Linked DNA regions of Homo sapiens. The protein of the gene in region 5 interacts with the protein of the main gene of each other region in a pairwise test. Each region holds a gene or a part of one and is shown on either strand. Other genes may lie near its edges. The genes, in order: SH3GLB1, REEP2, NOTCH2NLC, CISD2, TTPA, LEUTX and MRM1.

What was found.
Region 1: the proteins of TTPA (region 5) and SH3GLB1 interact in binary tests that used the Homo sapiens proteins (3 or more experiments, as listed by UniProt).
Region 2: the proteins of TTPA (region 5) and REEP2 interact in binary tests that used the Homo sapiens proteins (3 or more experiments, as listed by UniProt).
Region 3: the proteins of TTPA (region 5) and NOTCH2NLC interact in binary tests that used the Homo sapiens proteins (3 or more experiments, as listed by UniProt).
Region 4: the proteins of TTPA (region 5) and CISD2 interact in binary tests that used the Homo sapiens proteins (3 or more experiments, as listed by UniProt).
Region 6: the proteins of TTPA (region 5) and LEUTX interact in binary tests that used the Homo sapiens proteins (3 or more experiments, as listed by UniProt).
Region 7: the proteins of TTPA (region 5) and MRM1 interact in binary tests that used the Homo sapiens proteins (3 or more experiments, as listed by UniProt).

Annotation. Positions count from the first base shown.
Region 1 is NC_000001.11:86,745,583-86,749,838, reverse strand, and holds the end of SH3GLB1 (endophilin-B1), read right to left. Parts: 3' UTR 1,655-4,256; downstream 1-1,654. UniProt on the Homo sapiens protein: May be required for normal outer mitochondrial membrane dynamics. Required for coatomer-mediated retrograde transport in certain cells. May recruit other proteins to membranes with high curvature. May promote membrane fusion.
Region 2 is NC_000005.10:138,441,439-138,445,266, reverse strand, and holds part of REEP2 (receptor expression-enhancing protein 2), read right to left. Parts: coding exon 3,806-3,828; intron 853-3,805; coding exon 732-852; intron 514-731; coding exon 400-513; intron 40-399; coding exon 1-39. UniProt on the Homo sapiens protein: Required for endoplasmic reticulum (ER) network formation, shaping and remodeling. May enhance the cell surface expression of odorant receptors.
Region 3 is NC_000001.11:149,393,059-149,397,759, reverse strand, and holds part of NOTCH2NLC (notch homolog 2 N-terminal-like protein C), read right to left. Parts: intron 1-4,701. UniProt on the Homo sapiens protein: Human-specific protein that promotes neural progenitor proliferation and evolutionary expansion of the brain neocortex by regulating the Notch signaling pathway.
Region 4 is NC_000004.12:102,881,894-102,886,594, reverse strand, and holds part of CISD2 (CDGSH iron-sulfur domain-containing protein 2), read right to left. Parts: intron 1,547-4,701; exon of another isoform or gene 1,380-1,546; coding exon 1,165-1,379; intron 1-1,164. UniProt on the Homo sapiens protein: Regulator of autophagy that contributes to antagonize BECN1-mediated cellular autophagy at the endoplasmic reticulum.
Region 5 is NC_000008.11:63,060,936-63,065,636, forward strand, and holds part of TTPA (alpha-tocopherol transfer protein), read right to left. Parts: intron 3,382-4,701; coding exon 3,271-3,381; intron 1,242-3,270; coding exon of another isoform or gene 1,056-1,241; exon of another isoform or gene 491-1,055; coding exon 317-490; 3' UTR 1-316.
Region 6 is NC_000019.10:39,777,124-39,782,472, reverse strand, and holds the start of LEUTX (paired-like homeodomain transcription factor LEUTX), read right to left. Parts: upstream 3,620-5,349; 5' UTR 3,553-3,619; coding exon 3,546-3,552; intron 1-3,545.
Region 7 is NC_000017.11:36,606,685-36,610,326, forward strand, and holds the end of MRM1 (rRNA methyltransferase 1, mitochondrial precursor), read left to right. Parts: intron 1-985; coding exon 986-1,118; intron 1,119-1,214; coding exon 1,215-1,334; intron 1,335-1,558; coding exon 1,559-1,731; 3' UTR 1,732-2,280; downstream 2,281-3,642. UniProt on the Homo sapiens protein: S-adenosyl-L-methionine-dependent 2'-O-ribose methyltransferase that catalyzes the formation of 2'-O-methylguanosine at position 1145 (Gm1145) in the 16S mitochondrial large subunit ribosomal RNA (mtLSU rRNA), a universally conserved modification in the peptidyl transferase domain of the mtLSU rRNA.

The DNA.
Region 1 (4,256 bases), on a different chromosome or scaffold from region 5:
GGTATCAAAATGCCTGGTTGTTGGGAACTGCCTACTACAGCTCAAGCTTCAGAGAACTTTACTAGAACATGAGACTGAGCAGAAACATGTGCCCTAAACCCTGGTGCATCAGACTCTCAGAAAAGTTGCTTATAATGGTAGTCCATCTCACCTCCAATTAGCTATTCGTCTTGTTCTCGTAAGCCTGAAGCTTCCTGTATAGCCTTCCTTACTTACAACCCCCTTAAGTCCTCTTACTACTCATTCTTTATTGGTTGAGCAGTTTGAGTTATAATCAACAGATGTTAATTTAAATTTATTATGGTTCATCCAAATATTAAAATGGGTTGGTCTGTGGGGTTTTGCTATGATGACTGCAGCTCAACCCTGGGACATCTATCTTTTTGAATACTGCTGAGCAACTTTTATAATTCAGATACTTCTTTAAATACATTTCTCTCACTATGGATGAATCAATTCTGTGATCTCCAGTCCTGGAGATGCTACTGAGACTTAGCTAATTAACAATACTGTTACTGAGCTGAGTCACCTGTCCTATGTCAGGCTCTCACATAGAGGTACAGCCCCCCGAAGCACTGAGATCAGCTGTGGGCCAAGGGTGGGGGAGTATCAGAAGGGGCAGTTTGGCAAGGTTTACCACTTAAAAAGACTGTGATTACCACTTTCGTACACTGTTGTTAAGCATGGTAATGTTGAAATCTTCCACTGTACATCTTGTCTGAGAGTTTTATCTGGTTACATTACTTGAATACCTGACTGGAAAAAATGAGCCAGATTCCATAAGAATGAGGATTGCGTAGGTATAAGGATATACAAGACAATGCTCATTCACTGTGACAGCTTTCAAGGAAGATTTTCTTTGGCAATGGCAGTGATATTTACTCCAGAGGTTGACAATAGCAAATGCTCTAACATGCTCATCTATAAATCCTAGTAAGCCATAATATTATCCACTAGGTGCCAGCCACTCTTCATAATATGGTTAATCCTTTCAATGCTACAAGGTAGGTTTATAGTATTCTAATTCTAGAGATGAGTAAGCAGGCTCAAAGTGGGAGAGGTTTAATGACTGACAAAAGGCCAGGAAAACAAGTGGGAGAGCCACTGTTCTGCCTACCTTCCAAAATCCTACTTTCCCCACTACGGCTACATTCCCTAAATCCATCAACAGTACACCTGCATCAAAGATACCTCAAGATTCAAGTCTACTTAAGATTGTTCTTCTACTGTCTTTGCAAATGTCAGAAAGGTAATAATGCTTCCAGGAGACTGAATAAAAGCAAGAGGCAACTAGTACTACAAACATTTCCAAAGTAATACAAAATATATGATAAAGAGGGAAGAACAGTAAATGAATGTCATAATTTAAGAAACATTTAAGACTGGACTTTAATTTTGCAGGATCTTTTTATCTCCCTCTTACCCTTTATTTTTAAACCAAAGACTCCAAGAACATTCTAGTTGGAAGCCCTCCAAAAGAAACAGTATTCTCTCATATACTGCTGATAAAAGTATAAATTGCTTAGAGTTTTCTAGGGGGCAACATGGCAGTAACAAAAGCTTTTAAAAACTGGCATACCCTCTTCACTAGCAATTCCACTTCAAAGCATTTATCGTGAGAAAATATGAACACATACGAGATTTAGCAACACAATGTTCTTTAAAGCACTTTATTAATGAAAGTTGGAAACCTAAAAATTGAACAGTAGTTTAATAAAATGTGGCACATATGATGGAATATCATGCAGCCATTAAGAGATGTAGAAATATACTTGACACAGCAAGACAGTCATGGTATTGTTGAGTGAAAAAAAGTTACAAAACAGTATGTACACTTTGATCCCATTAAAAATATCTATAAATGCACAGAAAAGTCTGGAAGGCCATATACTTAAATAACAGTGGTTCTCCCTGGATGATGGAATTATCAGTGATTTTTCTTTCTCACTGAATCTTTTTTCTTTTTGCCAACAGGGCTATGACTTGTATTATAAAAAAGCATTAACAATTCTTTAAAAAGTGTCCTTTGAAGTAAGAATGAGAGCAGAACTTAGCAATCTAAGAGGCACAGGGATGTACACATGGTTTCTGATACTGTTTTAACGGTTTGTCAAGGTGTTTTGATGTTAGTCACCAATTAAAAGGCACTGTGTTGAGTGAAAACGTGGATGGTGGTAGTGCTTACTTTAGACTAAGCAATCCATTCCTAGAAACCTTCCACAGCAAACAAGTACTGGCATTCTAAGCAATACTTCCCACTATGATATCCTTATACCTTCCTACCCACTTGTAATACAGCCCAGAAGTTTCCCCTACATGGACAGGGCACTGTTGTTGGTTAAGGGTTACAGAAGGCAGAGAGGATTTTTCAAGTGATGTCAGAGAATAGGCCTGAAGGTGAAATGAATGTTCTCTTAGTTCTATTGCAGTGGTTCTCAAGCTTAGAGTGCAACAGTATTACTCAAACAGCTTTTACAACAGATTGCTGGGCTCCACTCTCAGAGTTTGATTCAGTAGGTCTCTGAAAAGGCTTATAAATTTGCATTTTTCTTTCATTCAACAAAAATTTATTGAGTTCATACTATGTCCTAGATCTTGTGCTAAGAGTTGGGAATGTAACTGCCATCAAAAGAATTATAGTTTTTATCTCAGGGAGCCTACATTCTAGAGTGACAGATATACACTAAACAAATAAATTATAAAAATAACTATAATTACAATGACTACTGCTAGAACACAATTAAGATTAGAAGACTCAGTTTTTGTCTTAAAATATTTAAAAAGCTGTCACATGGAAGACTGATTCCATGAGCCCTTGAAAACAAAAAATAAGTAAAAATGAAGGTAGAAAGTTCTTGAAAATAGTAATCAGCATTTTAAACAAGTCTCCAGGAGATGCCAATATTGCCGGTCTGGGGTCTCACACTTTGCCAATCACTGCTCTACTGAGTAGACATTTTTTCTTTCCTTGAGACAAGAGTCTTATTCTATCACCCAGGTTGGAGTGCAGTGGTGCAATCTTGGCTCACTGTAGCCTCTGCCTCTGGGGTTCAAGTGATTCTCCTGCCTCAGCCTCCCGAGTAGCTGGAATTACAGGTGCACGCCACCATGCCCGGCTAATTTTTATATTTTCAGTAGAGACAGGGTTTCCCCATGTTGGCCAGGCTGGTCTCGAACTCCTGACCTCAGATGATCCACCCGCCTCAGCCTCCAAAGTGCTGGGATTACAGGCATGAGCCACGGCACCCAGCCCTGAGTAGACTTTCTAATGAGCGTAATATGGGAGAAAGGGCAGGGGTGGTTGTGGAACTCTCTCTCCAGCGTTTGAGACTCACATGAGGTAAAAGCCACTTCATCTTATCTGGAGGTCTTGAGGCAAAGTTGGCTATAGGCTAAACTATGAAGCTATCTCTCCATTACAGCACCTCACTGAAGCTTAAAGTGCTAAATAGTAGGGCAATATTTCAGAATTTCAGGTGTTTGGGAGATAGGGAAGGAATTTTTCTGGAATTCTGTCAGCATGGAGGTGAGTGGGGCCTCTATGGGTAAACAAGTCTGTGGGTTTTTGCCTTGCCCTCCATTGTCTTCTCCACTCCACAGTTTATCCCAGAAATGTTTCCCCAACACTAGCTTCCCAGTCTCACTTTGTTCTTTGTTCAGGGGGAGGATAACAGGAGACTATGAAGATGACTCTACCCCACTGGTGATCCTGGCCTCAGGATTTATTTCCCATGTGACGCAGAGTGAGGAGGCACATTCCCATTTTTGAGACCTCATTTCTTGCAACATCAATTTTTCTGATTAGCACCATAAAAAGTTTTAACACCATGACCGTTTAGGTTAGATTACTTTGAGGAAAAAGGTAGACACAATCCAATCACTTTTTTTTTCATTTATAGAAGAGCCTACAATTATTTTAGTTTTTCATTCATATGTGCATCCTTCACATGTCACTATACTTTCAGATTAAGCTCAGTGGCACAGAGCTTATTTAAACAATTCTGAACTGCACCATGAATTAATAGGCTTCCCAAGCTTTTTCTTCCACGCCCAAGAAACTTCAGGCCTTTACCTGAGTAAAAACTAAACTTGACTTTAAAATAAGCCAAAACCAAAATAAAACCCAAACAACCAAACCCCATTAAAATAAAAAGCAATAAACCTAAGAACAAGCATATATATTGTGGTGGTTCTGTGGTAGACAAACGTACCAGAAGCCTTTGAAGCTTAACATTATTGAAGGTTTCTGTACATTA
Region 2 (3,828 bases), on a different chromosome or scaffold from region 5:
GCTGAAGCTGCGGAGCTTCTCTGACAGCACCCCCTGGCCCTAGGGTCACCACCACGCACCGGGAGAGCCGGGGGGAAGGGGCGGGGTGGAGATAGAGGTCACCATGGTGCTGGCAGCAGCCCCAGGCTCGGTGCCCTCCCCACACTGTCCTCACCCAGTCCCACACAGACAGAGCTGAGGGCTGGGGCAGGGCCACACTTTGCCTCTGGGGACAGATGGGGAAATGGCCGGACAATCAAAGTGACTCGGCCAGATAGCAGTAGAGCCTGGACTGGAGCCTCCAGCTGCATGAGCCCAGAGTCTCTACAGCCCCGAGTACAGGGTGGATGCAAAGGGGCCTGGCCAGGGCCCTTTGTACAAGGTAGGGGCCCTGGGAGTCTGAGCCTGCCCCCATCTCACCTTGGCGGCAGCTGTGACTGCAGCATTGGCGGCAAGGTTCAGGCCCCTCTTGCCCACCCTCATCATGGTCTCATAGCTCTTGTCTCGGGCCTGCGTGATGTACTCGTCGATCTCCTATGGGATTGGAGGGGAAGGGAGAAGAGGAGAGGTCCTGCCCTACCCTTGTTCACCCCTGGACAGAGGCCCCTGCCTGCTCCGGGAGGCCACGGCAGCCCTGCCAAGTCACTTTGGGCTCTGGGCCCCACAGGGAGGGCCAGTCTGTATGAGGCTGCAGGCTCTGGACTGCCTTGGCTGGGGGCAGGCTGGGAGGTGAGCTGAGAGTGGGGGCAAACCTTCTCCTTGTTGGACAGCGTTGGGTGCACGAACTTGCGGTAGAGCACGCTGGAGCCCTTGGTGTAAGGGGACAGCAGCCATATCACGAAGGCGATCTTCAGTTCAAAGTAGAAGGGGAACCTGTTGGGACAGGGGCAAGCGCAGAGTACAGGGCAGGGAGTTGGGAGGTGCCCTGTGTCCAGCAGCACCGGCCCCATGTGTGACCCTGCACAGCCCCTCACTCTTAGTGCACTGGGGTCCCCATGGGGCTCATGGGACTGCTCCTTTCTAATCTGAAAGGGTCTGGAGGGCTCAGCTGAAGCTCCAAACAGGAAGGTAAGCAGTGACACTAGAAGGAATTTCCCCCAGCAGCGACTCTCCTGGCCTCATCCTCTCCCCAAGCCCCAGCCCTCTCACTCCTAGAGAAAACCCCCCTTCCTCTGCCCTAGGGTCAACACCAAGGGAAACTCTTGACTGTGCAGGCCTACACCTGGGTCTTCACTCCTTCCCTTTCTGCCCTCCCTATCATCGAGAGGCCTGGGACTTCTCTAGCTTGCTCTGGACCCTCCTGCCCCACCGTGACACGACCCTCACTTCTCCAGGATTGCCCTTCAGTCCCCATAGTGCCTTCTCCTCTGGTCACAAACTCCTTCAGGTCACCTATGTCCTCACAAAGTCTTCATCAAAGCTCTCTCTTTTGCTGTGTCAAGACACATGTATAGGCCTGGCACAGTGGCCTGTAATCTCCCAGCACTTTGGGAGCCAAGGTGGGAGGATCATCTGAGCCCAGGAGTTCAAGACCAGCCTGACAACACAGCAAAACCCCATCTCTACAAAAAATAAAAAATAAGCCAGGTGTGGTGGCGTGTGCCTGTGGTCCCAGCTACTCAGGAGGTTGAGGTGGGAGGATCACTTGAGCCCAGGAGGTAGAGGCTGCAGTGAGCCGAGATCACACCACTGCACTCCAACCTGAATGACAGAGTGAGATTCTATCTCAGAAAAAGAAAAAAAAGGCATCTATATTTACTACCCTCAGTTTTGTTTTTCACCTCACCACCCTTGCCCTACTCTCATCTTTTTTTTTTTTTTTTTTTTGAGACAGAGTCTCGTTCTTGTTGCCCAGGCCGGAGTGCAATGGCACAATCTTGGCTCACTGCAACCTCTGCCTCCTGGGTTCAAGCAATTCTTCTGCCTCAGCCTCCTGAGTAGTTGGGATTACAGGCATGTGCCACCACGCCCGGCTAATTTTGTATTTTTAGTAGATAAGGGGTTTCACCATGTTGGTCAGGCTGGTCTCGAACTCCTGACCTCAGGTGATCTGCCCCCCCTTGGCCTCCCAAAGTGCTGTGATTATGGGCATGAGCCACCGCACCTGGCCAATTTTTTTTTTAATAGGCAGGTCTTGCTATGTTGCCCAGGCTGATCTCAAACTCCTAGGCTCAAGTGATCCTCCTGCCTTGGCTTCCCAAAGTGCCAGGATTACAAGCAGGAGCCACCATGCCCGGCCTTTACCCTCAATTTTTTTTTTTTTGAGACTGAGTCTTGCTCTGTTGCCAGGCTGGAGTGCAGTGGCACGATCTCGGCTCACGGCAACCTCCGCCTCCTGGGTTCAAGCGATTCTCCTGTCTCAGCCTCCCAAGTAGCTGGGATTACAAGTAGGTGCCATAATACCTAGCTATTTTTTTTTTTTTTTTTGAGACAGAATCTCACCCTGTTGCCCAGACTGGAGTGCAGTGGCTCGATCTCGACTCACTGCAAGCTCCGCCTCCTGGGTTCACACCGTTCTCCTGCCTCAGCCTCCAGAGTAGCTGGGACTACAGACACCCGCCACCACGCCCGGCTAATTTTTTGTGTTTTGTTTTTTAGTAGAGATGGGGTTTCACCGTATTGGACAGGATGCTCTCCATCTCCTGACTTCATGATCCGCCCACCTCGGCCTCCCAAAGTGCTGGGATTACAGGTGTGAGCCACTGCGCCCTGCCATGCCTAGCTAATTTTTGTATTTTTAGTAGAGACGGGGTTTCACCGTGTTGGCCAGGATGGTCTCGATCTCCTGACCTCGTGATCTGCCTGCCTTGGCCTCCCAAAGTGCTGGGATTACAGGCGTGAGCCACCACACCCGGCCTTTACCCTCAATTTTTAACCCATCTCTCCATCTCTTTCCTCTTCTAAAACTATTTTTCTCAAATGCAAGGGTCTTATCTATAAATGTAATGATCTCTTGTCCTCTCCCCCTTGGTAAAATTCTCTTCTTGAGTTCCGATGAACTGTGTTATTAGTCCCCTCTTCCAAGAGGTATCTGATCATTCAGTAAACATTTTTGAGTTCCTGCTGTGAATATACAGATGATTAAGACATATTCCCTGTCCTCAAAGTGCTCATACATACGTAGTCTAGTACAGCCTGGAAAATGCCTTGGAAATGCAAGTATCCAGCATTTATAGGAGTGAATCATATGCCTATTTTACAAATAAGGAAACTGAGGCCTCGAGAGCTGTGACCTGCCTAAGGTCGCAGGCAGCATGGCAGAAGCGGGTTTCCTGAATTCCACTGAGGGGCTCTGGCTGCCGCCAGAAAGAAACATGGGGATTATGTTTGTTCTTACTCCTTGTTTGTTTGTTTTTTTTTTGAGACGGAGTCTCACTCTGTTGCCCAGGCTGGAGTGCAATGGCGCGATCTCGGCTCACTGCAACCTCTACCTCCTGGGTTCAAGCAATTCTCTTGCCTCAGCCTCCCTAGTAGCTGGGATTACAGGGGCGCCACCATGCCCAGCTATTTTTTTTTTGTATTTTTAGTGGAGACGGGGTTTCACCATGTTGGCCAGGCTGGTCTCAAACTCCTGACCTCAAATGATCCACCCACTTAGACCTCCCAAAGTGCTGGGATTACAGGTGTGAGCCCCCTCGCCTGGCACTACTATGTCTGTTCTTCTGCAGGTCAAGTTAGGCATGAGAGGGGAGATATCAAGGACCCCATGAAATTGTCAGGAATGGGAGGAGCTTCACCCCCAGGCCCAGTCTTTTGTTTGGCTGGCTGGGTAGAGAAAGGCAGAGGCCCTGGGCCCTGAGATACAGGAGGGGACGCTGGACCTCACCAGGAGAGCACTATATCCGTGAG
Region 3 (4,701 bases), on a different chromosome or scaffold from region 5:
CATGGAAACCTATGTATTTACATACACAAATTAATACAATAATTCCTTTGCTTTTCTTATTCCAAGCTATGGCTTTATCATCCCCCTTTCTTGGCTTTACTCTCCTTTTTAAGACCACAATGTATGTTCTGCCATACAGATAATATTCTCCTCAAAAAAGAGAGACAGGAGAAAAAACAGATCTACGGCAAACCTCCTACCACTACCAGTGATGCAGTTTGTCCCGTCTCAAGCCTATGAGCATATCCTTTCAGATCTGAAGCCACTTCCTTCTTCCTATCAAGGACAGTATTATCAAGTGTCTTTGTGAGAGGAGCAATCCTGTGCCCCTTCTTGCAGATTGTTTTGTTCTGCTCAAGAAGCCCTAGATTCCTCCTTTATTTTCCTTTCCTTATTTCATTTGCTGCAGCAGCCCAGAAACCCCAAAAGCAGGACCACCAGAAATGAGTGACCTTTATATCTCTCCACACTAACACATCTGAGGGAAACTGCCGACACCAAATATGTGTTCATGAGCTAATGAAGCAGAAATCCTCAAAGGAAGCACCATTTGCAACGGCTGAGGACAGAATTCTTTAGTGGACACCAAAAAGGCTGTGGAACTCCTATGCATTCTAACATCTCAGGTAACATTCTAATGGAGGAATAAGGAGGCTTACAACAAAGTCATACAACACAAACAGAAGTCCGAAAATGCTGGATTTCGCAAATTTCTTTTAAGACAAAACAAACAACTTTACTAACCTTATACCATAGCAGCTTTCTTCTCTGTACTAAGTGAGGCCAGCAAGTAGGAGGCATTTCCAAGGGGGAAAAATGACCACAGGATCTAGCCAAAGCAACCTGTCTCTAATACTCTCAAAAAACAAACAAACAAAAACAAACACTTTGATTTCCCAGATTCACTCTGCAGTGATTCTAAAACTTTCCTAATGTAAGAATCACCTGGCTATTTCTTGAACACACAAATTCCCAGATGACATTCCAGATGCACTGAATCAGAATCTCCATGAGAACACCTGAGCTATTCTTATCATAAGAGAGGTTAGGGAAACACTGCTTGATAAATGTGATTCTCCCACCAGTGCCCACCTGTGCAGGGAGGTATGAAACAAGTAGGGCTAAGATGCTTTACCTGAGCAATCACCCCAGACATGCTCCTCACTGGGTTTGACTCCTTTTATGGAGAGCTGGGTGTCAGCCCAGTAAAGTCTACAGACAAGCATCTCTTTGGGTCCCTATCACCTGCACAGGTCTCAGGACTCTGAGACAAATTTCTGAGTAGATGTCAATGAGGACAAGTCATGAGGAGATGGATTACAGCTGAATATAAGAAGATCTTTCTAAGAATTAGAGCTGGCCAAAGATGGAATAAACTGCTGTGGAGAGCTGTCTACCACAAGAGATGTTCAAGAAGAGAGAAAATATGGTACCTCTTGACTAGAATGTTGTAAACATCAGATCCAGCATGGGATGGACAGAAAGACTAGATGAATTTTAAAGTTCCCGCCAATGCATAAGTCAACAAAGAGGAAAATTTCAGCCACTCCTTAATTAATTAAAAGAGATAGCAAAAAAAGTCTGTGGGTGGGGTCAGCTTTCAACTGATCCTATCTCTTCAAAGGAAAAAAGAACATAGAAACACACTCCAACTCACCATCAGCCTCTCCTATAGAATGTTCTAAAGGTGGGAAAGCAGGAGTCATAGATGCTGTGACTAAGACCTGCCGCTCAGTTGACTCTGAATTTCGGGCACATGCCAGACAAGTTCTGTAGTACAGAGAAGAAATGTGTGTAGCACAGACCTGGCCCTCAAGGATCAAAATCATGTGGCAGAGACAACTCAACACCATGTGATTCTCTCAAATATTTATTCATCATATTTCACCTTTAGTTTTTGTCAGCAGGGTGTTCAGGGGACTCTCTTGGTTCAAAAAAAAAAAAGCAAATATACTTTACTAAATGTACATATTCTCTCAATCCAGTACAAGTTTGCAATATCCAACTCAATGAAAAAAATCTCAAAAAAAATTATCAAAATAAATATAAACTTAGTTAACTCTAATTTTAAAAATAGTATTCCAAAAATGACTAGTCCCCAAAATGATGAAATTACAATAAGGTGTGGCTATTCTGGACAAAATAACAGAAATTGCTGGCCTAGTAATACAGTAATACAGGAAGCAGTGGAAGCAAACTTGAGTGAGAGGCAGGGGGTGGGTGGCAGTGCCTTTGAAGTGAGATTCCAAAGTCAAAGTGACCTTTATAAATTGCAGAAGTGATCAGAAAAAGAAAGAAAGAAACCCCACACACAAAGAAATTCAAAATTACAAGTTTAAATGAAACATCTGGGGAAGGGAAAAATTTGGTTTTTCCCCAAATGTAAGGTAAGCATGACTCCTGCAAATACTATTTTTAAAATGTCTAGGAGTACCACAGTTGTCCAAAATAAGAAAGTGGCTAAAAATAATTGTTCGACTGAACAAGTATTTATTGTGTGCCTATTAGATACCAAGGCATCATGCCAGGTACAGGGGTAGGGTATGGGCATTAGAATAAACACATAAATGAAAATACACGATTCCTTCCTCATGTACGCATTAACAATAAGCACTTGAGGATGTTATAAGAGTTTTTGTGCACATAAGCGCATTTGTACATGAGATGGAAGCAATGTGGACAGTGAATGAGGCACTGGACACCAGAAGAAAGGAATTCTAGTCTCAACTCTAATTGGCTCTGTGACCATGAACAATGAACATCAGAAAATGGAGGACCAAAACAGTGGCTCTCCTACAAGGTCACCAAACCAATTAATAACAGACCTGGAGAAGAATTCTGGTCTTCTGGCTCCTAGTTCAGTGATCTGTCCAAAATACTACACATATGGTAGGCTGACAAAGAAAGAAAAGAAGACCTTTTGGTTTCAAGTCATTTGCAGAGAAAGGGTGGGAAACAAAAACAGGAAAATCAGGAAAGGGTGGAAGGAAAATTAATAGTTCAAATTTAGGCATTCGAACTGAGACATCAAGAAAGGAAGCATGTAACTATGGACTGTGAACACAATATAAAGAAAATGATGTAAAATTTCTTATATCCTTATTCAAATCACGCCTTGCAGTTTTTTACTCTAAAATCATTGCAGACGTATATAGATAAAGGGTCAAAAAACAACATGTATGAATGACATTTAAGGAAAACGAGATAACAGAAGAAAAGGGAAAAGGAGAGGTGGAGAATTTATTATATCATCTAAATATATGAAGCCCTTCTAAAGGGTCAATGCAGACATACTGCACCCAGATAAACAGAAGAAATGACATTATATTCTATATCTCTTACGTCAGCAATTTTAAAATTCTTGAGTCAGAAGTGTTAAACACTGGAATGACTAAGGTTACATTTGTTATGGAAATTTCTTAAATTTAGAAAGACCTCATACACACACCTGAAGGTAAAAAAAAATGTACTTAATCAGTGGGTTGCAACCAAGTTACTTGTCAGAATCACCTGTAAACCTTGAAAAAATATGGATTCTCAAACTTACCTTATCAGAATCCCTGGGTGCTGAGTCCAAGATCCACCCCAACAGATTTTGATGTAGCCAGGACACAGAGTTTTTTTCTACCATAATGGGAGAGGTAGGGAGGAGGATCACTAGGAATGGCAACACAGAGTGGGAACTAGATCAATGCAAATTTTGTGGGCAAAATAGAATTTCTGTGGGTGTGATATTTTTAAAATGTATTGTAAGGCTGCTCTGAACCATCCAAGCATATCCCACTGAATTTAAACATTCTCTAAAGGTCCTGAAGTCAGCAACTACAATCCAGGTGAACCAAAAGTTGCTTCTCTATGTCATAGAAGCCTACAGGAGAGGCAGTAGGGTGGGAATGGAGCAGAGAGATCCCAAGAAGTTATGGGTAAATATTTTTTAAATCTAAACATTCAGAAAAATAAGAGAGACTAGGAATCACTCTCCTCCTCCTCTCCACCACACCAAAAAAAAAAGGAATAATAAGAAAGTGAAAGGAAAAATAGTTTTAGGTTAAATTTCATCACCATCTGAAAGAAAATTACTCCGATTTTGTTTAAGAGAAGAATTCAGCTGAGAAATTATCTAGCAGGCAGCAAAATCAGGGAGTCACTTCCCATTGCAAAGCAAAAGAAAACAAGGAGCAAGAGGATGGTCCTGGATAGCTGTTTAGACAATCAGACATACTGCTAACATCTCCTTGCCTTAGAAACTCCGTGATGTTTAAATTAACAATTGGCCACAAGCCAAACACAGGAGCACTCAAAAGTTTAGAAGGGTGTGCTGTAATTGGTACCTTAGCAAAACACAATAATAAATTAAGAGGATTCAAGAAGCCTTCACTGTAGACTCTAAGAAGATTTAAGATTTGTACCAAGAAACAGGCTTCTAAATCTCTTCTACTGCATTAGTTTAGCATCTAAAGAACACCTGTCTAAAAATCAAAATATCTAAATCCTATCCTTTGAGTCAACTTGACTAACACTCAACTTGACTACCTAAAAGCTAGCTAATAATCGCAGCACCTCAGCAGAGCAGAGGTGGAGGGCATAGTTTTATGCACTGAGATCCTATAATAAAAGAAGCCCTATGTGTCAGAGTAATCCCATTTCTGACATATTATTTAATACTTTTTTTTTTTTTTTTTTTTTTTTTGAGACGGAGTC
Region 4 (4,701 bases), on a different chromosome or scaffold from region 5:
AAAAATTCACTCATAACCCATCCAGATACACATAATAATAATTAACAGTTTGGTATATTTTTTCCTATGCATTTATTGTGTGTATTCTTTTTTTTCTTTTTTTTGTGAGACAGTCTCACCTTGTCGCCCAGGCTGGAGTGCAGTGGCGTGATCTTGGCTCACTGCAACCTCTGCCTCCTGGGTTCAAGTGATTTTCCTGCCTCAGCCTCCTGAGTAGCTGGGACTACAGGTGCATGCCACCACGCCTGGCTAATTTTTTTTGTATTTTTTAGTAGAGACGGGGTTTCACCATGTTGGTCAGGCTGTTCTTGAACCCCTGACCTGGTGATCCACCTGCCTCGGCCTCCCAAAGTGCTGGGATTACAGGCGTGAGCCACCGCGCCTGGCCTGCGTGTATTCGTTTTTTAAACAAAATTGGGATCACACTGTAATATGCTTTCTTACTCATATCAGGATCTCATGTCATTATATATCCTTTAAAAACATGATCATTCCCTTTTTATCAGATATTTAGTTTATAAAAATTTTGCTATTACAAAGGATGCTGTGATGAGCAATACTGTATTAAAAACCTCAAATAATCTATGATCAAGTACAAGAAACAGATTTTGTCAACTACTTATAGTACTTATCACTCCAAACTCCTTCCCACATTAAAAATCATCTATAATTGAGGCTATCATTTACTACCTCATATTATTAAAGCAGTTTACATATATCATCTCACTTCTCAAAGATATGTAATGTGGATGTATCAGGTTAAAACAAACCCTGAAGATTAGAGATTAAAAATTAAGTAACTTGTCCAACCAAACTCATACTGTGACAAGTATATTTGACCACTATTTACTATGACACCAAAGCTTTTTTCCATTAAACCTTAGGTCCTCTCTCAAAGAATGTGTATTTTAAAATACATGTTACTCTACATAAATGCCAAACATTGCGAAGGCATTAGATTTTTATTCTTCTTTGCTGCTCCAACTTTTCTAATGTAGGTAGTATCTATCATGACATGAAAACTTCAATTTAGGAATATGGTCTTTCAATACCAAATATTACAGAAAATTCTCTCATCTTAAAGAACTTCAAAACTGGGGATTTAAGAGGCGAAACAATCCTAGCACTGCAAAATTTTAGTGTACACGTAAACAGACATCTTACCGTTTTAGAACGCCAACACCTACAATAAGCTGCTTTAGTAAGACACAAATCTTCAATGTTTATTTCATTCACTACTTTCGGATTTTCCTTTTGTATTTTAAGATTAATCAAGCTATCCTTCTGTTGTTTCTTCTTCGGGAGGAATGGACGAACTGCAAGGTAGCCAAGAAGTGCGAGTACACCAAGGAAAGGCAATAACCGAAGCCATTCTGAAACTAAACATGTAGATGTGTCAGAATCTGCAGTGCTCTTGGAAAAGAATTCAAAATAGCATGTCTAGTTTCATCCTTGAGCTTATTCTTTGTTACTTTTTACATTAATTCCTTTTTAATGGATCCATAAAACTGTGAATAAATAACACAATAAAGCCAGCTCTACCAAAGACCACCTTACTTTATTTATAATTTGAGACCAGTGAAACTAGAAACCTAACTTTTCAGAAATAGGTTCCATTTCAAATATCCTATCTCATTGTCTACATCAAGTCTATTTGTGTTTGTCTATTTTTATTTTAGGAGTTATGATCACTATAACTATAAACAAAATTCAATGTATATTTTATAAGTTAAGAAAACATTTTATCTCCTTAATACTATGTCAAAATCATACAACAGAATATCTGCAGAATTTTTACCACTGATTCATAATATCAGAGAGAACATGTCCTCTGATGCTTTAAGGTACATTTTTGGTAAATGTTGCTAAAGAACACTGAAATTTTGTGTAAAAGCTACTATTTTAAAGAACAAATTGAAACCTTCTATGTTGAATGTTCTCATTTTAAGATATATCTAATTCCATAAACTTCATTTAAAGCCTTTTGGAGTACCTAGCCTGTCTTAAGGGGACAGGGAATATAAGTGATACAAATGAAACAGTCCCTATGCATGTGGACACAAAAATACCAGGAAACCAAGATAAACATTTCAACATACATTTATCAAATGTCTGCTAGCACCCTGCCTCTGCTGGGCTCTTTTCTGTTCTTATAGAATTACCAGTTAACTTCCTTCACTGAATGCCGAATCTGATACCTTGCTAGGCACTATGTGGAAATAGCTTAGTTGAGAAAAGAGAAAAACAGAAAATAATATGCTAACTCATGCTAATAAACATTAAAGATAAATGAACAGGTTATGCTAAGAGTATAAGGGCACTAGCTCATTTAACACTATGTTAGCTTAAACAACTATATGTGGTAGGTATCATTATTATCCCCATTTTACATGTGAGAAAACTGTAGCCTAAGCAGGTTTAGTCCAGGACACCCTAAATCCAAAGCCTGTTGTCAGTTATCATGAATCAAACCCAATAGATCTAAAATTAAAATCTGTGCCTATCTTGGTAAAACTACTCTCAGGAGATAATAGTACTATTTAACTATTGAAAGAAAGACAATATGAACTCTTCCAAAATGGAATTATTTTTGATATAACATCATGCCAAAGAAATCTAAATGAAAAAACCTATTTATCTACCATTTTCATAGATAGCACCTATAAGAGTGGCTGGCAAAAAAGACACAATAAATGGTAGCTTTTATTCAGAGATTATAGAGATTGGTGAGGAAGTACTAGCAACTCCTTTGAAAAAAATATTTTGCCAAATAACTTGACAATGCTATATGGGCAAAAATCTTCAGGAATATAATCTTGTAGTTACCAGAATAAAACTCTGTAAAAGTATGAACTTTGTCTGCCATGCTGGCTGTTACATTCTCATAACCAAAGTGGAGACACTCCAAATAGGTTCTTTGAGTGAATTAAAGCTCTGGAGATAACACAGAACTGTTTTTGCGGGGAGAAGGAGGCCTAGGTATAAGATCTGTGCTATTCAATATGGGCACCACTAGCCATACTGTTTAGATTTGTACCCAACAGACTTGTAGAAACTGTCTTGAAATAACAGTTTATTACTTATAGTTCCCAAGAGGAGAGGATACACTATGCAATGCAGGGCCACATGAGAGGTACTAGGGTTGATCAGGAGGAAGAAAGAGGAAAGGGAAAAAGCATGGGCACAGGCCTTTACTGTGGTTTCCATGGAAAAGGCAAGGCAGGAAACTGTTCAGGACTGGCTAGCTTGAATAATTTCAGTGGGTTCTGGGCAAAAGTAGTGGTCCCTAGTCGTCTCCTACCTGTCCCTGGGGTGACTTAGGGCAGGAGAAATATTGACTGGAGAAATACTGACTTCATGTGTAAGGGTTAGATAAAGGAGGTGGTTGGGGGCATGGGCTTTGGATTGGTTGGTTTGCATATGAAAGGCATGCTCACAGGCAAGTTATTTAGTATCTCTAGGAATTAAATTGTCTCCACAGCCAACAAGGCTCCTAAGATATTAAAGCATAATAAAATACAGAAAATTGAAAACACGGTTAATATACACATGTGGGCGTGGTGGCTCATGCCTATAATCCCAACACTTTGGGAGGCTGAGGAGGGCAGATCACGAGGTTAGGAGTTCAAGACCAGCCTGGCCAACATGGCGAAACCCCGTCTCTAATAAAAATACAAAAAATTATCCAGGCGTGGTGGCAGGCGCCTGTAATTCCAGCTACCTGGGAGGCTGAGGCAGGAGAATCGCTTGAATTCAGGAGGCAGGGGTTGCAGTGAGCCGAGATCATGCCATTGCACTCCAGCCTGGGTGACAAGAGCAAGACTCTGTCTCAAAAACAAAACAAAACAAAACAAACACATGTGGCTATTCACATGTAAATAAATTAAAATTAAGTAAAATGTAAAATGCTGTTTCTAAGACACACTGGTAACCTTTCAGAGGCTCAATAGCTAGCTACATGTGACTACTGACTACCATATTGAACAGTACAGAGAACATTTCCATTACCACAAAGTTTTACTGGACAATGCTACTATAGATCATTGGCTCTATAAGGTGCCATCTCCAAAGAATGGCAAGGCTACCTTTCCAGCTTCAACTTCCACAAACATGGTCTCTTCATGTACCTGAGGCCAGCGAAAGCTACTGTCTAGTAAGCAGCCTTTTTGAGTTCTTTGCATATGGAGTTCCTTCTGTTTTATCTGACTAATTATCTTAGCTTGCAATTGGCCCCAGCATCCAGTATGTAACTCGAAATAGCAGTCATTAAATGTTTGTTCAATGTAGAATAACATTAAGTATTATTGTACATATTACAATATTTTAGAAGTCATAAGAGCTTAAATTTATCAAAAAGCGAGTGAATGGGAACGCAAAGATGAAAATCTTATTTATTTATTTTTGAGACAGGGTTTCACTTCCATTGCCCAGGCTGGAGTGCAGTGGTGTGCTCTTGGTCACTACCACCTCCACCTCCCGGGCACAAGCTATCCTCCTGCCTCAGCCTCCCAAGTAACTAAAACTGCAGGAGCACACCACAACGTCTGGCTAATTTTTGTATTTTTAGTAGAGATGGGGTTTCACCATGTTGGCCAGGCTGGTCTCAAACTCCTGACCTCAAGTGATCCGCCTGCCTCAGCCCCACGAAGTCCTGGGATTACAGGTGTGAGCCACCATGCCTGGTTGAAAACCTTAATGTTA
Region 5 (4,701 bases):
TCTAGAAACATACAAAGATGCACATGAGCAGCTACTTTAGCAATAACTTTCATGTTCTCTTCAAGTACAAAATCGCCGATTTTTATGCTCTTAAAATGTACTGACATTTAATTACTTCAAAAGTAGAGAAAAAAGCATTTAAAAAGTAAAAAATCTTTCCAAACACCTGTGTTGCTCATGTCAGAAGATTTCTACATTTTTAAAGTTCAGGCAAGCATTAGTTTAAAAGATTTGCTCCTTTTCTTTCATTCATTTAACCAGGTTGGATATCACTCATGTATTTTTAGTTAGGAAGCCATTCACATGACATAACTTCTCATTGAATGCTCTCAGAAATGCTGCTGAGATAATCTTCAGACTTCATTATAAAATTTGTCCATTCCTGACAAATGTCCTCCATGGAGAATTCTTCACCACCATATTCCAGAGGAAGAATGTCTGGGAAATGCTGAAGCAAGCTTTGTTTGTAGTTGTTCCCATGCATGTGAATCTGAAATAGCCAAAACACTTTAGAAGGAAACCGCATTAGATGCATTTCCAGTGGAAAATCAACCTCATAAAACAAGGTATTCTAATAACTTCTAAAATGGAGTGTATAAATAGATACCACATCCTTTATTCCTCTGGTTATGAATCTAATAATTTTACTTATGTTTAGGTTGTATTACTGTGGATCTAATAACCTTACTGTTTCTTGGATTTGCATTCTTATAACTGCATAAAATTTATAAAAAGTTATTTTCCTCTTTCATAAGTAAATTTTTAAAGATTAAATAAAGTTATTTTATAAATTCTATTCCCTTATGTGCAAGTGATTCTTACCAAACTAATACCTTGGGACTATTCTATACACGATAAAAATGTACTAGCTGGTACTAATTCATATTAAGTAGAAGCATATATCTGAGCACACAATTAAATCTATGAGAAACAATTTATATGGTACAGTCGATGGATACTGTTAGTTAGTATAAAGTTAAGAGACAGCCGGGTGCAGTGGCTCATGCCTGTAATCCCAACACTTTGAGAGGCCAAGGCAGGTGGATTACTTGAGCTCAGGAGTTCAACACCAGCCTGGGCAACATGGCTGGTACAAAAAAAATACAAAAATTAGCTGGGCGTGGTGGTGCAGGACTGTAGTCCCAGATACTTGGTGGGCTGAGGCAGGAGGATTGCTTGAGCCCAGGAGGTGGAGGTTGCAGTGAGCCAAGATCGTGCCACTGCACAAAGTGAGGCCCTGTCTAAAAAAAAAAAAAGAATTAAAAGAATTAAAAAGTCAAATTTTAAAAAAGTATTAAAAAACAATTATGATAGTTGAGAACCTTAACTTTTCAAATATTTTAAACTATAAAATTGATCATAGAATGCCCTGAAGTTAAGAGAAAGCCGTAGAAACTTGAACCAAAAGCATACCTGCTAAAATAAATAAATAACCTTTTTTCACTTTCTAGGGCAAAATGTTCCTCTATGTATTCAACAATCATTTAATAAGCATCTATTATGTGCTGGGATATGAGGTTTGATGGATGAAATGAGTTTCCTATACTCACTTAGGAAACTCACAAAGCCAATCTTTAATTTTTTCTGAAATATGTAAAATATTATCAGGTAATTGAGAAGAAATTCTATCTCCTCAGGAAGGGGCAAAATAAGAAAATGTATGGGGCATTGCCAAAAAGTTAAAAAGGAAAAAAGTGGCTGGATCAGAGTTTTTTTCTCCCTATTTTGGCAAGTCTGTTTCCCGTCAACTAACTTTCACTGACATCCTTCCCCTAACTTCTCAACTTTTTACTTTTGCTTTTTTCTCCATATTCTCCTATTTCTTAGGTTCAGTTTATTCTTGTTTTTGTTTTTATCTAAAATATTACTCAAAATAGAAATAGTTATTTTTAGATCTCTAAGAATTAAACAGAGGGAAGCCAGATATTATCAAGTTACACTGAAGAGAGAAAAAAATGAACAAACAAAATTGATTTGTATAAAAATACTAGAATGAAAAGTAGCTGAAAGTGGCCATTTTTGCTAAAGCAGGCAATTTAAGGGTGGTTCTTGAAGACAAACAGAAGCATCCACTGCATAACCTCTAAAGAAGCTCTAGGGTCATAACTTTCTGACCAGGTATAAGATGTTATATTTTCTTAATATGAAAGAACATCGTTTCTAAAATTCCAAATGTGCTATTACAGTTTATATTATCACTGCTGACATTTCAGTGATTTTTTAGATTTAAACTGTTAAAACCTTTACAAATTGTTTTGTGTTCAAGGCATTAGATGATGCCAATGTTTGTCTAAATAGATGCTCTAAAAATTCTTCTTTACAGATTAGTTTAGAATGGTTGCCATTCTTGAGAACGCAGACTCTATTTTCAACCTTTCAAAAAGTCTAAGATATATGAGATGCTTTTTCTGAGATAAGGCTCCATAGGCTAGGTAAAGAAGAAAAAATCCAGTATCTTTGCTCTAACTAGCATGACATTAAGTCATATACCTCAGTTACCGTGGTTCTCAGTTACACTGAAACCGTTAAGTAGGCTTCACTGTTTAAGAAAAATGTTTATTTTTATTTGCATTAATAATAAATTCATATGGTTACAAATCAAAACAAGATAAAAGATACACAGTGAGAGATCTTGCTCCCAAACCTATTCTCATCTACTGTAGTTCACACCTCTTCTCTTGTTCCCTATAGATATCCACTTATATTATTTTTTGTATATCCTTTTAATGTAAATTTATGAAATATATTCTTATTTCTCCCCTTTGTATACAAAAGGTAGCATGCCATAAACACTATTCCACATTTTGTTTATTTCAGTTTACAAAACATCCTGCAATCTCGTTGTTTTCTGTTGTGTAGATGTTTATTTAACCAATGCCCTAATGGTGAACACTTCCTGGTTTTCAGTCTTCTGCTGCTGTGACTCCTCTAGCATATGTAATTTTGTTTAGGTATAGGTAATTCAAGACAGTGATTTTGATGTCTTTGCCACACTGCCCTCTATAGGAATATACCATTAAGCATTCCAACCAGCAGTGTATGAAAAGCCCAGTTACCCCACAGTCTTACAACCAATATACTTGATTTTTATAAATTAAAAGTAAATTTTAATTTACTTTTTTTTAGTTGGCTTGTTAGATAAATATTCAAAATATTGGGCTAATGATATAGATGGGCAGGTACGAGGAAAGATGATAAAGCAATCCTTAAATTAAAAAGGGTTGGAATGTTTGGTGTAGAGGAACACAGACTTGAATATATTTTACTCACCCGTTCCTTAATTTTTTCAGTCAGGAATGGTTTGATCATGGAAAAGACAGCATGGAAAATTACTGGTTCATTTATCAAATGGATGCCACGAACTTTCAATGGAAATGAATCCTTTTGAAAATAAAAAAATCTTAATAACAAAACATAAATATTACAATCTGATACCTAATGTCAAGTTTCTTCTTTGAACACTTGCTAAGCTTATGGAAATATCTAAAGTGTGTGATTTTATCTTCAAAATTATTTATTCCATCAGCACAAAAGCCTGGCTTACAGTTCACTGTCACTAGATTAAGTAAAGATCTCTAAAAAGGTTTCTCCTTATAGATTTGGCAAAGTATTTTACAAAATATCTGCACACTTTCACCAGAAAATTCCTTTCCCATCACATATAGATGTTCTTTTAACGAACCAATGAGTCATTTGGAAATTTATATTTAACTTTTTCCCAAAAAATGTTTATTTTGAGAAAAAAAATCACAAATATTGAAAGACTAGCACAATAAACACACACTTTTAAACTTTGACATTGGTATATGTCTTTAGCATCAAAGTAATATAGGCTTATTTAGAAAGTTTAAGAAGTTAAGAGTTGAAGGAAAAAGATGGTTTTCCTACCTACAAGTTGTATTATTAATACAGAGACCTTTCATTCCAAGGTTCTTTTATGTGAAGTTCTTTTATTTTTTCCATGCATCACTTTCAGAGATGTATTATTAATTTGGGGATTGTCCTTCCAAATCCCTTCTATGCATAATTTTCTTTTAAACATAATTGCTAATATACTTTCTAAATAATTTTCATCCCGTTGTGTTCCACTGATACAATACAGCTTTTGCAAATATCATGTTTTATTATTGTTGCAAGAATCCATCAAATGAATGTACATTTTTTAAGTAACCATGTTTCTATTTTCTGGACTAATAAACTATTTATTTTACTTCTTTACTGAAATTGATGCTGCAGTAACTGTCTTTGTGTATAGGAGAAGTGGTGGTTATAAGCACGACTTTTACATTCAGGTGACCTGGGCTGGAATTCTCACTTCACTACTGGCAAACTGTGTGTGCCTGGGCATCGCTATGTCACTTCTCGGATATAGTTTATTAATTGTAAAGTGGGAAAATACAATAGTCATATGTCATAGGCTCAGTGTGGACATTAAAAGATAATGCATTTGAAACACTTAGCAAAGTACCTGGCACATAGTAAGCTATTATTATTATACGCAATCTTTAATATATTAAAGATTATTCCTTAGCTAGTTTCCCAGAAATAGAATTACTGAGTCAAAGATGATGACCACTTTAAAAACCTTTTGGAAAAAAAAGATATCAATATACACCTACCAAGACTTATGTGACATTTTATTGTTCCATTGATATATTATATTTTTTAATCAATTTTTAATTTAGGAAAAAAAGTTAATGA
Region 6 (5,349 bases), on a different chromosome or scaffold from region 5:
CTCACAATCATGGTGGAAAGCAAGGAGGAGCAAAGCCACATCTTACGTGGTGGCAAGCAAGAGAGGGAATGAGACCTAAGCAAAAGGGGAAACCTCTTATAAAACCATCAGATCTTATGAGACTTATTCATTACCATGAGCACCGTATGGGGGAAACCGCCCCATGATTCAGTTATCTCCCACCGGATCCTTCCCACAACGCATGGGAATTATGGGAGCTACAATTCAAGATGAGATTTGGGTGAGTCCTTATTGAGATAGAATAGAATAGTGGCATGATGTTGACACCAGGTTTATATGAGTCTATAAGATTCATAAGAGTATTTGAGGCCCTATTATCCTAACCGGTCATAGACTCAGTGGCACTGCTGTCTATGTTGATTGGCTTGTGAGACCCTGAAGCTATTGGTTTGGCCATTTATTAATGGGGTCTGTAGGGAAGGAGATATGAAGCTTAGTGACCTAAGAATGAATGTCGATTCTCTCATTTACTAGCTCTGTGACTTTGGCAGCATCAGTACACTTATACTGTTTGCCTCCGTATCTTTAACAATAACATGGTCCCAGAAAGCTCACTCCTTTAGGGAAGATGTGAGTAACCAAAGAAGCAAGTCTGTTAATTACAGGCTTGGTGCATGTGTTAGTCCATTTTGCATTTATAAAGAATTACCTAAAACTGGGTAAATTAGAAAAGAGGAATTAATTGGTTCACAGCTCTGCAGGCTATACACAAAGCATAGTGCTGGCATCTGCTTCTGGTGAGGGCCTTAGGAAGCTTCCACTCATGACAGAAGGCGAAGGGGAGCCAAGGTGTTACATGGTGAGAGTGGGAGCAAGAGACAGCAGGGGAAGGTCCCAGACTCTTTTAAACAACCAGATCTCAGGTGAACTTAGAGATAGAGAACCCACTCATTACCATGAGGATGGCACTAAGCCATTCAGAGGGATCTGCTCTCATGATCCAAACCCCTTCCACCAGGCCCACCTCCAACACTGGGGATCACATTTCAACATGAGATTTGGAGGGGACAAATATGCAAACTGTATTAGTGCATAATGGGAGTTTTTACTATGGTTTAGAATATAAATAAGACCTCATCATCTAGTAAAACCTGATTCTCATGGTCATCTATTTTATAGGAAAGTTTCTATTTTCAGGATGCTCTTATTCCTCATGCAAATACATGGAAAAACAGAAGCCAACATGCTGCCCAATTATCGCACAGTGAAGACAAGTGATCGGGCACATGGGTTTCTCTTAGTGTCTCAGCATTTGTTTAGACACAAAGGGAGAACAAAAATTTACAGGACATTGAAGAAAAATTCTCAAACAGGAAGGGGACAGCAAGAAAGGGAGAGAGGGAGAGACAGAGAGAAAGAGAGAAAAAAGAAAGGGAAAGTGGAAGAGAAAAAGAAAGAAGAGGAGGAAAGCAGCAAATAACCACATTTTTTCTTAAGAAAAGAAATAAGGCTGGGCACGGTGGCTCATGCCTGTAATACTAGCACTTTGGGAGGCCAGGGAGGGTGAATCACTTGAGATCAGGAGTTCAAAACCAGCCTGGCCAACATGGTGAAACCCCATCTCTACTAAAAATATAAAACAATTAGAAAAAAATTACAAAAAAAAAGAAAATCTATAAATGTTAAAATTAATATGCTCGGATAAAAGATATTGCACTCATACATCAAGAAAGTCTTGAAAAGAAAGGAAAATCTGATAAGACAAATGTTCTTTGAAATCAGTAGCTAAAAAGAAACCCTTAGGCAATAATAGAAGAGTTGGAAGACAAAGCTATTCCAGGAAGTAGAAAAAGTATACAAAAGTGGACAAAAAGAGTGAAAAGGTCGGAAAAAAATAAGATCTCTGCTCAGGGATGTCCAGCACTAGCAATATTTATGTGACTAAAAATATCTCTGACTAAAAAATGTTTCAGAGAGTATCATGAAAGTATTTATTAAAAAAAATTCAAGATTTGAGAGATGAGGCACAGGGGTTTCCAGAATGAAGACATTCCACGATGAGCACAATAAATGAACAAAAGGATCGTTGTTGCAAAAATATCAGAATACCAGGAATATATAGAAATTTCCAGAAGCTTCTAAAGGGAAGTAGAATTTCCATCAAAGGAATGGTAATTAGAATTCTACTGGTCTTTAGAAAAGCAACACTGCACATTGATAAGTTATAGGAGGTAAAATCGAGGAAGGATGTGGCTTTGAGTTTAAAATCATCTACCAAGCTGAGAGGTCAATATGTAAAATCGACTAATTAGTATTTTTGTAAGTTTAGTATTAAACAATAGGAAAATGTATTAGAAGAGCCAGGTACAAGTTTTGATAAGTGAGCTTGTTGATGCATAATTTTTCTATTAGAATCAAATCATTTTAAGAAGTTAAAATAAAATGTAACTAAAATTACATTTATGTCCCCAGCCAAGAAATACACTTTTTTTGTTTTTGAGACAGAGTCTTGCTCTGTTGCCCAAGCTGGAGTACAGCGGTGCAATCTCAGATTGCTGCAACCTCTGCCTCCCAGGTTCAAGCAATTCTTGTGTCTCAGCCTCCCAAGTAGCTGGAACCACAGGCACATGCCACCATGCCTGGCTAATTTTTGTATTTTTAGTAGTGACAGGGTTTTGCCATGTTGTCCAGGCTGGTCTTGAACTCCTGGCCTCAAGAGATCCGCCTGCCTTGGCATCTGAAAGTGTTGGAATTACAGGTGTGAGCCACCATGCCCAGCCAGTAATATACTTCTAAACTACGTTTTACAAGTACAATTATAAAAGGAAAATGTTGATAAATATCACAATGACAACTTTTAGAATATTTGTACAACGGTACTCATAAGTAAATTGAAAAACACAAGCCAGGCTGGGAGAATATATTTGCAACACATATAAGAGATAAATTATTAGTGTCTAGAAGACAACAAAAATATTCTACTAAGCCTCAAGAAAAAAAACATACTAAAAACTGGGAAATGATATAAATATAAAAATTAGCATAGGGGAAAAACAGAATGGCCTTTAAAATAGAGTGAACAGATTCAATCACACGGGTTAGTAAAGAAATGGGAATTAAAGATCACATACTATTTTATACCCATCAATGGACTGACATTTAAAAAGTATGAAAGTTACCAGGCATTAAAAAGGATGTGAGTTCAAGACGACCTTAGGCAACAGAGTGAGATCCTGTCTCTACAAAAAATTTAAAAATTAGCGGGACATGGTGGCACACACTTATAAGTCCCAGCTACTCCTGAGGGTGAGGTGGGAGGATCACTAGGGCCTAGGAGCTCGAGGCCAGCCTGGGCAACATACCAAGACCCCATCTCTTTAAAAAAGAGATGTGGAGAAACAAATTCCTAAGTTACTAGAATCCCTTGCAAAGTGTTTTTCAAACAATCCTTGTTGGTATAACCCAGTGGTTTCTAAATTTACCCAGTGGTTTCTAAGAAGCCACCACAAGGTCCCACACCTCTCACTTGATTTGTCTGCAACCCAATCACTGAAACCCCAGCCTCTTGCCTTCGCCCAACTTACCAAACATGGTGTCCTCTAGAAATGAGTGGGTTCGATCAGCTGTGTGCTGCAGAGCTCCTGAGCTGAGTCTATGTGACTGCTGGGCTAAAAGACCCGCTTATTTAAGCAGAATTTTAATGTAATCATGTCCCCACCCTGTCCTACCCTAATACCACGCCCTCCAATAATCCATTCAATATCTGTTTATTTAGAACCTATTATATGCCTGATGCTGTGTAGGGCACTGGGAATAAAACTATGTTTAAAAAAAAAAAAAAAAAAAAAGACTGATCCTTGACTCCAGAGAGTGGAAGAAAACAAAAGAAAGTGGAGCGAACTGAAAATGGATAAAATGTTCAAAAATGTCACTTGGGATCAATGAGTAAATAAACAAGGCGCTGAGAGAAAAATAAGTTGGTAAGATGATTCAAACTGGAAGGTGAAGGAGGTGCCCTGTGCGTGGACGGCTTCCAGTGAGACCCGGAGTGCAGCAGGAGGCATCCTGCTAGGAGTTTGGGATGATGGGAGTTAAGCCCTTCACCCGCCCATCTCGGTTCAACCTCTTCCAGTTGAGACAGCAATGGATGACAGTGAAGAACTTGGCAGAGCCTAAACCATAGGGGATCTTGTATCTTCTCTTGAGTATGGATTTGGGGGCAGCTGGGGAGCCCATAACGAGTTTTCAGCAAGGAAACTTAAAATATAAATTGCATTAAAAGAATCATGCTTCTTTCTTTCCTCTGAGCATCCCTCTCTCTGTCCCTCTGTTACTCATTTACTCCACCTTTCAGGCACCTTATTAACTCATTTATTTATTCCTCCCCCTAACGTTCTTCTCCATGATGGGTCTTATTTGTGGGGTGAGTGTAATTCACTAGACAGATCTAGTCTCTATCCATGAGATATGGCCTCCCCACACTCAATGTGGACCCAAGCTTTCTGAAGCAGAGATGGGACTCTGGTCTTGGCCCATCTTATACTACCCCTCAACTCTGTCCTCTCCCGCAACCTCCACACCCCCACCAGGTTGGTTTGGAAAAGTCTTGGACTAGCGAAAGAACTCTGTCTCTGGGAACATTGCAGGTAGCCTGAAGGCCAAATGATTGAAGGACCCATCTGTATCTTTTTACGTTTTGTTTTAGGGTCTCACTCTGTTGCCCAGACTAGAGTGCAGTGGTGCCATCATAGCTCACTGCAGCCTTCAACTCCTGGGCTCAAGAGATCGTCCAGCCTTGGCCTGCCAAAGTGCTAGTGAGCCATTGCACCTGGCCCCATCTATGTCTTTTACAGGAATAAAATTCAGGAACACTTCTAACACAGTCAAGGGTAGAAACTCCCAAATCCTATCGGAAAGGATAAAGTGGGCCTCAAATTTTCCGTTTAAATGTTAGAATCAGTCCCTGGAGTTGCCCTATGACACTAATGAGGATGGAAAGAGAGTGATATATTCAAAGGGTATGACCTCCCCAATAGCAGGGAATTTTGCAGAACTTAACGTTAAAACACCCCTGACACTTCTTCATTTGTTTGCTTAATTATTTGAATGCCTGCTCTGCTAAGATTTGTTCCAGTGACTAGGAAATTGGGATTTACAAAAATAGAACTCACTGCCGCCTTCCCAAGTGCTGGCATTCTAGGGAGGGAAGCAGGAAATAAAAAAGGAAACAAGACAATACGCAGTTCTGATTATGATACTACTGGTGTTATGAATGCCACCAACAGCACTGATTCAGAGGATGTGCAGTAGTTTTAAGGTAAGGTAAGATGTCTCTGAGGAAGTATCATTTTCACTGAAGGAGAGGGAAGAGTGTTCTAAGCAAAGGGA
Region 7 (3,642 bases), on a different chromosome or scaffold from region 5:
GCAACCTCCGCCTCCCGGGTTCAAGCGATTCTCCTCCCTCAGACTCCCAAATAGCTGGGACTACAGGCATGTGCCACCACACCCAGCTAATTTTTTGTGTGTTTTTAGTAGAGACGGAGTTTCACCATGTTAGCCAGGGTGGTCTCAAACTCCTGACCTCAGGTGATCCGCCCGCCTCGGCCTCCCAAAGTGCTGGGATTACAGGCGTGAGCTACTGCGCCTGGTTTTTTGTTTTTTTTTTTAATTTGAGATGGAGTTTCACTCTTGCTGCCCAGGCTGGAGTACAATGGCGCAATCTCGGTTGACTGCAGCCTCTGCCTCCCGAGTTCAAGCGATTCTCCTGCCTCAGCCTCCTGAGTAGCTGGGATTACAGGCATGCACCACCATGCCCGGCTAATTTTGTATTTTTAGTAGAGACGGGGTTTCTCCATGTTGTTCAGACTGGTCTCGAACTCCCAACCTCAGGTGATCCCCCTGCCTTGGCCTCCCAAAGTGCTGGGGATTACAGGCGTGAGCCACCGTGCCTGGGCCAGGCTAGTTTTGAACTCCTGACCTCAGGTAATCTGCCTGCTTCAGCCTCCCAAAGTGCTGGAATTACAGGCTTGAGCCACTGCATACAGCCTCTGATGAAGATTTGATGAATTAGAATAGGAGAGGCAGGCATGGTGGCTGACGCTTGTAATCCTAGCACTCTGGGAGGCCAAGGTGGGAGGATCGCTTGAAGCCAGGAGTTCCAGACCAACCAGGGCAACATGGCAAAACCTCATCTCAAAAAAAAAAATGCAAAAACTAGCCGGGTGGGGTGGCGAGTGCCTGTAGTCCCAGCTACTTGGGAGGCTGAGGTGGGAGGATCACCAGAACCCAGGCGGTTGAGGCTGCGGTGAGCTGTGATCGTGCCACTGCACTCCAGCCTGAGCGAGAGTAAGACCCTATCTCAAAATTAAAATAAAAAAAGAATTAGAACATATCTTCTTCCCCCTTTCAGACCAAAGCCCAGCAGGGCTGGCTCGTGGCCGGCACGGTGGGCTGCCCAAGCACAGAGGATCCCCAGTCCTCCGAGATCCCCATCATGAGTTGCTTGGAGTTCCTCTGGGAACGGCCTACTCTCCTTGTGCTGGGTAGGTGGATGTCCCTGCGTTTGTGCCCAGATTACATTTCCCGAGCAACTGGGTGTCCAGCTGGGCAACCCTAACCCTCAGCCCCACGCCCTGCAGGGAATGAGGGCTCAGGTCTATCCCAGGAGGTGCAGGCCTCCTGCCAGCTTCTCCTCACCATCCTGCCCCGGCGCCAGCTGCCTCCTGGACTTGAGTCCTTGAACGTCTCTGTGGCTGCAGGTGAGTCTACTCCCCTTTCCCTTTCCTCTATCCCTCTAATCACGCAGGTGGGATTTGATGCCCTCTAATCCCATTTGCTGGCTGTTTGTGTGCCTCAGTTGCTTTATGTACAAAATGGGGAAATTACATCCCGTTGATGAGATGAGGGGCTGCCTGAATGTCTAGGTCTCTAAACATCATCCTTCTCCTCCGTCCTCTCTTCCCTTGTCCTTGTGTCTGTGCAGGAATTCTTCTTCACTCCATTTGCAGCCAGAGGAAGGGTTTCCCCACAGAGGGGGAGAGAAGGCAGCTTCTCCAAGACCCCCAAGAACCCTCAGCCAGGTCTGAAGGGCTCAGCATGGCTCAGCACCCAGGGCTGTCTTCAGGCCCAGAGAAAGAGAGGCAAAATGAGGGCTGACGTGGACTGTCCACAGTGTTCATGTGCTGGAGTCAGGGACGGCCGCACCTGCCTCCGCCGGCTCCAGTGTGCGGGGAGCCTCTGCCTGAGTGTGCACCAGGCCCATGTTTATTGACCACAGTCTGGGGGGGGGGGAAGGGGACTGCGGTGGACACCAGAGGAAGCTGTTTCCTGTTGTGATGTTGGACCTGTAGTAGGACATGGTGATTTGTTAATTTCCATGGGAAGCCATGATGGCCTAGCATGGAGGGAATCTGTTCCCAGGCCCTGCCTGGAAGTTGAGGGAAAGTTTAGACATCTGCAGAGAGGCAGGCAGCCCAGCCCAGGGGACCCGTTCCTCTTGAACCAGTCATTGCCTGTGGCAAATGTGTGTATGAGAATGTGGGGGGTGGAGGGCGGGGCCCTGATGTGGAGTAGACAGTGCGCACCTCAGGCCCACACACGGCCCCGCCCTGGGGCCTTGAGCGCAGGCCTCATCTTTCTGTGCCGCGGGACTCCGCACCTACCTCACAGGGTTGTTGTGAGGCTCAAATAAAACATCACTCAGCACGTGGGAGATTCTGGCCAATTCCTCCGTTAGGTGGCAGCCTCGCTCTTCGGTCCAGTCTTCAGGCAGCTTCCACAGCCTCCTTGCGGGGAGACTCCTGGCTGCAGCCCCATGAGAGGCGACGGGAAATTAGCAAACACCTCCCACCCCACGGGGGCCCCCCACGGGTGACTGAGTCAGTTCCCTTCAAGGGGAGGAACTGGGAGCAGGCTTGCCGTTGATTGTACAACCGAGACAGATTTGGCACTCCTCCCCTCGGGTCCCAGGAAAGCAGCAGGAGCCAGCAGTGTGAGGAGCATAGAAGTGTTTCTGTCCTGGTGGCACATTGGAACCACCTGGCATGCTTTAAAAAACCCAACACTGACACCAGAGAGTCTGACATGATGGGTGTGGCGCCACCTGGCATCCGGCTTTCGAAAGCGCCACCATTGGTCTAATGTGCAGCCAAGGCTGAGAATCACCACTAGGGCAGGTGGACTCAAATTCCACACCCTTGACATTTTGGGCCAGATAATTTTTTGTTGTGAGAGCCATCCTGTGCACTGTAGGATGTTTAGCAGAATCCCCGACCTATACGCACTAGATGCCTGTAGCATGACCTCTCATTATGAAACCAGAAATGTCTCCAGACGTTGCCAGATGGCTTCTAAGAGACAAAAATCTCCCCTCCTGGAGCATGGCTTTGGAGGATAGCAACCCCGAACTTGCAATCCTGACTGCTATGTGACCTTGGGGGGGCGCTCCTTACCCACCTGGGCCTCGGTGCCCTCCTGGGCGAAAGGGGAATAATCCTACCTTCCTGGATTGTTGGGAGAATATGGAGGGCAATAGGAACTCACATGTATTAGGTGCTCAATAAATAGTACTCCACTTTTCTCTGGAATCCATCTGCATTGGATTTGTCTCAATTCTAATAATGGCAATGCCAATTTAGAGCAACACTTAAAGTTGTTTAAAAAGGGCCTATGCTCCTTTTTTTTTGAGACAGGGTCTCACTCTGTCGCTCAGGCTGGAGTGCAGTGGCGCGATCTTGGCTCACTGCATCCTCTGCCTCCCAGGTTCAAGTGATTCTCCTGCCTCAGCCTTCCAAGTGGCTGGGACTACAGGCGTGCACCACGCGCAGCTAATTTTTATATTTTTTTTTTGGTAGAGATGGGGTTTCACTGTGTTGGCCAAGCTGGTCTCAAACTCCTGGCCTCAGGTGATCTGCCCTCCTCAGCCTCCCAAAGTGCTGGCATTACAGGTGTGAACCTGGCCTAAAAAGGGCCTAAGATCTTTTTTTTTTTTTGAGACGGAGTCTCGCTCTGTTGCCCAGGCTGGAGTGCAGTGGCGCGATCTCGGCTCACTGAAAGCTCTGCCTTCCG